2 linked regions of the Homo sapiens genome follow. The protein of the gene in region 1 purifies or fractionates together with the protein of each later gene. This does not show direct contact. Each region holds a gene or a part of one and is shown in the gene's direction. Other genes may lie near its edges.

Region 1 (3,657 bases):
CCAAACCAGGTCAATTCCCTTGGCAGGTACTTTATACTGATGGTGTGTCAAAACTGGAGCTCAGCTGGCAAGACACAGGCCAGGTGGGAGACTGAGGCTATTTTACTAGACAGACCTATTGGGATGTGAGAAGTATTTAGGCAAGTTTCAGCACTAACCAATGTGAGAAGGCCTCCAGAGATGAGCAGTTGGTGAAAGAGAGGCTCAAAACCAGCTACCATACAGGTCAAGAAGAATTTGGCATTAAGGAAACAGCATAGCAGGATTCCAGACAGGCAACTGGTCAACAACATGAAGGTCTGGAAGAAAGGTCGCAGGTACTCAGGTTCAGGGCACTACTTCAGCTTCAGCCCTTGCAAAAACTGGTGAGAGTTGGAAAGTCTTTAGGCTAAGAAAAATTGGATTATTTAAAAGGGGGTAAAGAAAGGGACTCAAGGAGGAAGGATTAAGGCAAGAACTAGGTTCCAAGAAACAGGGCATGAGAGAGAGTCTTGATCTACCACTATAGTTCTCGTGGTAGCATCAGAATCACCTGGGAACGTAGAAATGCAAATTCTCCTGCTCTACACTAGACCTACCAAATCAGAATATCTAGGGGGTGGGGCCCAGCAGTCTGTGCGCAAACAAGCACTGCAGGTGATTTTGATGCACATTATAGTTTGAAAACTAGGCCAGGTGCAGTGGCTCATGCCAATAATCCCAGCACTTTGGGAGACTGAGACGGGAGGATTGCTTAAACCCAGGAGTTTGAGACCAGCCTGGGCAACACGGCGAAACCCCACCTCTAATTAAAAAAAATACAAAAATTAGCTAGGTGTGATGGCTCCCACCTGTGCTCCCAGCTATTCAGGAGGCTGAGGTGGGAGAATCACCTGAGCCTGGAAAGTCGAGGCTGCAGTGAATTGTGATCACACCACTGCACTTCAGCCTGAGTGACAGAGTAAGACCCTATCTCAAAAAACAGAAAAAGAAAAACACTGGCCCAAAGGAAATGAACTTGTTACAGAAGCCGGGGTTCAAAACACCAAATAATGCACTTGTACCTAGTCCTTCCCGGGTGCTCTGCAGACATTTCTCCAAGCGTAGTCTGCAAACAACCTACATATGTAGAATTACCTATGCACATTTTTCATTTAACAACCAAGAGCTACATTTGTAGCAAAATCTGGGTTGTAACTTAGCCTACAGCTGAAGCCTAAGAGATTCCGTCTGTGAGAAGAAATAACCCACCTCTTTGGCCCCCCTCCCCAGGCAGGAAGCCAGGATGGTCCTTATATAAAGTTGTGCTGTCCAATAGGTAACCACTAGCCACATATGGCTATTTAAATTTAAATTAACTACAATTAAGAGAAATTAAAAATTCAATTCCTCAATTGCACCTGCCAAATTTTAAGCACATAACAACCACATGTGGCTAGTAACTACTGTATTGGAGAGTGCAAGCGGAGATAGAACACTCTATTACTGCAGAAATTTCTATTGGATAGCACTTATAATAGTTTAGTGTAACTTAAAACTCCCTAGTTGCCACAGTCATGATTTAGTAGTAATTTCATGGATTTCTCTACTGAGGTTAGAATCTCTGCCATTAGAGACTGATAAATTTAAAGTTTGCAATTATCAAACTGGTGACAATTTAAGCCAGAATCAGGTAAATGTCCTCAGTTTTAACAGCATTGGAATTTTCTGGGACTAGCTGTGTATCTATCCAGGATTCTTGAGAATGCCTGCCATTTTTCAACATAATGGATGTAAGGTATTACACATATACCTGGGGATGGGGTGGTAGGTATAATTGCACAAGCATTGTGGAGAATGGTATCAAAGAGTGGCAGAACATCACAATCAAGGTTTTCCCTTTCTTTTACCTTTGCTTTTTAAAAAGACAATATTTGCTGGACCTGATCTTATAACTCATAAATGGGACACTGTATGTTCCTTTTTACCTCCTCTGTTTCTACTTAATTGCACCCTATGAGGACTGCTTCCCTTACCTACCATAACCCCTTCCTTCACTCATCCATATCTTTACTCTTCTTCACAACTCTGTAATATTGACCTTCTTTATGAACCTTTCCTGGAACAATCCCTCTTAAGTGCAAGCACTGTTATTATGCCTTCAATGTATTTAATATCCATGTATCTATTCTCTCTAATTTTGTCATTTTGTGTTCTCATGTATTTTCATTCATTATGTGTCCAACTTCCATGGATAACATGGTTACAACAAAAGATCCTACTTTATGACAATTATCTTCCTTGGGTTTGTGGGACATAGAACAGTGCTCAGAGTAGGGGATCCAAGAACCCAGGAGAATATATTAGCTAAGAAGATAACTTCCGTTTTTAAAAGTCCAAGATTCAGGAGATCAAAACCATCCTGGCTAACATAGTGAAACCCCGTCTCTTCCAAAAATACAAAAAATTAGCCCGGCGTGGTGGCAGGCGCCTATAGTCCCAGCTACACGGGAGGCTGAGGCAGGAGAATGGCGTGAACCGGGGAGGCGGAGCTGGCAGTGAGCCGAGATCCCGCCACTGCACTCCAGCCTGGGCGACAGAGCGAGACTCCGTCTCAAAAAAAAAAAAAAAAAAAAAGTCCAAGATTAAAAAAAAAAAAAAAAAAGGATGTCTGCTTTGTGAGTTTAGCATTGTCTCCTTGTCATTCCAGAAATGAAATGGCAAATACATTTAAATCAGAACTAAAAAGGGGAACAGGGTATAAAGGCTCAATTTAGTCACATCATTTCCGTTTCTCACCCACCCCCTTTAAACCAGATGTTTGCCAATGCATTAACAATGCAGATGTTTCCTGAAAGAAAGTTTAGTAACTCAAGCAGACACCTTATTTTCTTTTCAAGCAGAAAAGACTATGAGATGGTGGTTGTGGTTGTTCCGGGAGGGAGAAGATATAAATGATACACATTATTTCAAATCATTTCATGACCTCACTGCACACTTATAGTTATTGTACCTGTTGTCTTTTTGCTGTCAAGCCTAGCTAAGATCATTTGGAATGTTCAAGATCACTCATACATGCATGTGCACACATACACATGCACATATGTTCACTCCCTATTTCATCCACATGAACTAAGATTACTGATGTGTACAGATTCAAAGCACTTTTATTCTTTTCCAAAGGCAAGAAGCTGAGCTACTTTCCAGAATAGTTGTGAAAGACCCTGTCATACTTCTGCATTGTTTCCTCCACACCACCTCCATCCAGTTCCTTATGAATGGTTACTGGTTTTCAAAAATATGAGATAAATTGAGTGTATAAAAGTCATTTTTAGACAAAATGAAACAGGAAATGAAAGAAACCAGAATCTCTCCTCATTTGTGGATGGGCCAGCTCCACCATGTCATGGTTAATCTGCAGGGAGGAAATACTAGATTTGATTGCAGATCAGACTGCAGCAAACCTGCTGTGACTAAGGCATCAAGAGAAAGCAAGCAACAGCTGGGGCTTCAGTGGTGAAAACATTATATATCTAGCTTTGAAATATGAAATACTGTTTAGCAGTGTCACCTAGAAAAGAGTGTTTCAAAATGCTGATGCTTCATAAGAACCTTTCTCTTCAGAGTTGTTTCTTTTATCTTTCAAATTAGCCAGGGTGGGAAATAAAGTGATCACTTGGTGAAGAAATCTCACAAAGA
Region 2 (3,657 bases), on another chromosome or scaffold:
AGATCTCAGCTTTAATGTTATTTAGGCCCCTTCTCTGCCCCACATGGCTTTAAACTTTTATTTAATAAACATTTCCATAGCATTTAGCATGTGCCAGATAGTTTTCGAAACACTTTACCAATAACTAACTCATTTAACTCATGACAGCTCTATGATGAAGGTTTATTATTATTTCCATTTTACAGATGGGAAAGCTTAGGTGCAGAAAGGTTAAGTAACTTGTTCCAGGTCTTACAGCTGGGAAGCTGCAGATTTGCGATTCAAATCCAGGTGGTTAAGCTTTAAATGTTCACCATGCTATGTTGTCTATCATATTACTTTATTTAGTTTCAGGTATCACTAAACTGGATCCTATCAAGCCCTTCCATAATTTTTGTAAGTTAAAAAGTTTTATTGGAACACAGCCTCATCCATTCTTTTATAATAGACCATGGCTACTTTTTTGGACAGAGGCATTGTTGTGTAGTTGCCACAGAGATCTTATGTCTGGCAAAGCCAAAAATATTTACTGCTTCTCCTTTACAGGAAAAGTTTGCTGGCCCCTAGTTGGTTTGATTCACAGGCCCAGTCATCAGCTGAAGTTGTTTATTTGATTGCTTGTTTATGACAGTTGTAGTAGGTTTAAAGGCACCATGAGAGCAAGGCTCTTTCTTGTTTTGTTCACCTCTGTATACCCATTTGCTAACGTGGTGCCTGGCACCAAGCAAGTGCTCAAAAAAAATTGAATAAAGGATCATTATTCAGTGGGATAGCAAAGTGCTTTGTAATTATACTTAGCCCTTGACCCTTTGTTTTTTTTTTTTTTTTGTTGTTGTTGTTGTTGTTGTTTTGGCTTTTAAAGGAAATTTGTTAACAAAGTTGTCTTCATTTTGATCTCTAGGTTTGCAGGTTGCTATGTTAATGTTGTTTGTCTTTGGAGTCTTACTTCATGAAGTCTCACTGAGTGGTCAGAATGAAGCTCCTCCTAATACTCACAGCATTCCAGGCGAACCTCTGTATAACTATGCCAGCATCCGCTTGCCAGAGGAGCACATTCCCTTCTTTTTGCACAACAATAGGCATATTGCCACTGTCTGTAGGAAAGACTCTCTTTGTCCATATAAGGTAGGTATTATTTCTTTTCTCCTTATTTTTATGAGGATGCAATTTCAGCTGGCTTACAGGTTCTGCTTTATAACCTGAAACTGAAGGCAGAATTCTAATTTTCGGTTGTCACTGTATAAGTTAATCATTGTTTCATATAATACTTCTAAGTGACTAAACTGCTTAAAATTATGTCCCATTCATAAGAGAGAAATTTAAAATCTAAATCACTTCTAAAACAAATAAGTAGCCAATACTATTTGTAAACTCTGTAAAGAAGCAATTAGATTTTATGCAGGAAAGAACATCTTGTTAAAAGTAACTAAAGAATTTCACACCTCTTCTTTCTTAAACGGCACATGAGAGGATCGGTTAGCACTTAATTTCAGTAATAACACCTCAGCCTCTGTCTCCACATAATTAAGCCTGTTACTGTGGCTTTCTTTCTGTTTTAGAGGAGTTGGAAAGGCCTCAAATAGGAGCCCATTAAGACATCTCACAGGGCCCCAGAGATCAAAGCTGGGCATTGTGAGACACTTCCTTTCCCATGGTGCTGGCACAGGAAGCATATGGAAAAGCAGACTTGGGAATCAGACCAGCATTGCTCCTGGGGCCTTGCAGAAGAGCATTCTCAACTCCTTGGCCAGCAGCAGCTGGGTGGTTCCCAAGGGTGGCAGAGTTGTCCATGTGTTGTGGGGTCTCTGCTGATCTTGATTGCTAAGTGAAGTTGCTGATTGATTCAGTTTAGCTGTGATTCCTTTGGTAGCACAAATTCCAGTTTATATGTCTTTTAGGGACTGATTTTAGAATCCGCTTGCTCACTGAGAAAGGTGGTTTCTTAAGCTACTTCAAGAAATTCAAATTCAAGTGGTCTTTGAGCGTCTAGGTAAAGCCCAGACTTTCGGTTAGGGGACCGATATGGTGGGGGTGATGAGTAAGGAGGATTGTTAAGAACCTTGAGACTGCTCTTTTTAGAATTAACTGTAAGTTTTAAATTTATTGTTATAAGAATACGTATTATAAATGTAAATGTGAATGCTCTATAATGATTTGTTTTCTTAATGGAAAAATCTAAGAGTCTTCTCTAAATGTCAGAAGAAGGGAAATCAATGTAAGTTTTATGTTCTAGAAACACCTAGAGAAGCTAAAGTACTGCTGGGGTTATGAGAAATCCTGCAAACCAGAGTTCAGGTTTGGTTACCCAGTTTGCAGCTATGTCGACATGGGATGGTAAGTTTCCATATGGAATACCCTCTTCAAGTCTTCCTCTTTCTATACAGTGTATGTTGATGCCCTAATTTCCAGCTAGATTCTTTTGGTTTTAGATAGTAATTCATTTAGATATTAATTTGCTTGCACAGTCATGAATTCAACTTGACTATTTCATACTGGGATAGGAATATCTGTCATTTCCTCTGCCAGAGGGAGAAACAGCCAGGACCATAGATAATTTTTTCCCCCAGTGTATAGTAAGAAGATAAATGGATGGTTTCTTCTTGATTCTTCCTGGGAGAATTAAGTATAATTAGTACTTCCAATACATGCAATGTTAATGAGGTAAAGAAAATATAGTAATTAAGAATGCATCATTGGCTTCAGTTTCAGGTGATAACTTCATACATGTCTGTTATGTATTTTATGATAAAGGAATAATTCTGTGAATAACTTAGTTTCGTAACTTCATGTAGTGAGGCGTAGTTTTGGAAAAACTATGATAATATACTGTAACAAAATTAAAGTAATAAGGAACCTCTAGCATTTTAACCTTTAGAATGAAAATTCAAGGTCCAAAAAAGTAAAAAGAAAAAAACACAGAATATTTTTATTTGCAAATAGGACGGACACTCTTGAGTCAGCTGAGGACATATTTTGGAAACAAGCTGACTTTGGATATGCCAGAGAGAGGCTGGAGGAGATGCATGTGCTCTGTCAGCCTAAGGAAACGGTGGGTATTTTGCTCCTTACTAAATAAACTTGTTTATTTAATTTTAATTTTATTTATTTTTGAGACGGAGTTTCTGTCTATTGCCCTGGCTGGAGTGCAGTGGCGCGATCCCAGCTCACTGCAACCTCTGCCTCCCAGGTTCAAGGAATTCTCCTGCTTCAGCCTCCTGAGTAGCTTGGATTACAGGCGCGTGCCACCCCCCCCCGCTAATTTTTATATTTTTAGTAAAGGTGGGGTTTCGCCATGTTGCCAGGCTGATCGCGAACTCCTGACCTCAAGGGATCCACCCACCTCAGCCTCCCAAAGTGCTGGGATTACAGGCGTGAGCCACTGTGCCCAACTAAGCTATTTTATTTTTATTACTTATTATTGATTTTTAATATTTATCATTTAGCTTGTAATGTAAAAACAAGATAGACGGCACTATGAAAGGAATTCCTCACTCTCACTTAGTTATTGGCATAGAATTTTATGTAACTTCCCCAAATAGGTTGTTTTCTTTCCTTTGGAAACCCTGTCCTCCTTATCCCACATTTATCAGATAGTCATATTTTAAGACAGTCGAAATATTTTTAGGTTTAGAATCATTCCCCCAAACATGTGCTAATGAAGAGAAATTGATAAACTGC

The links. The genes of interacting proteins can lie anywhere in the genome.
Region 2: the proteins of F9 (region 1) and EOGT purify together in Homo sapiens (affinity purification with mass spectrometry; 2 studies listed by BioGRID and IntAct, with this or other methods). This does not show direct contact.

What each region holds. Positions count from the first base shown.
Region 1 is NC_000023.11:139,551,239-139,554,895, forward strand, and holds part of F9 (coagulation factor IX isoform 1 preproprotein), read left to right. Parts: coding exon 1-26; intron 27-3,657. UniProt on the Homo sapiens protein: Factor IX is a vitamin K-dependent plasma protein that participates in the intrinsic pathway of blood coagulation by converting factor X to its active form in the presence of Ca(2+) ions, phospholipids, and factor VIIIa.
Region 2 is NC_000003.12:69,007,084-69,010,740, reverse strand, and holds part of EOGT (EGF domain-specific O-linked N-acetylglucosamine transferase isoform a precursor), read left to right. Parts: intron 1-880; 5' UTR 881-894; coding exon 895-1,104; intron 1,105-2,212; coding exon 2,213-2,313; intron 2,314-2,919; coding exon 2,920-3,028; intron 3,029-3,657.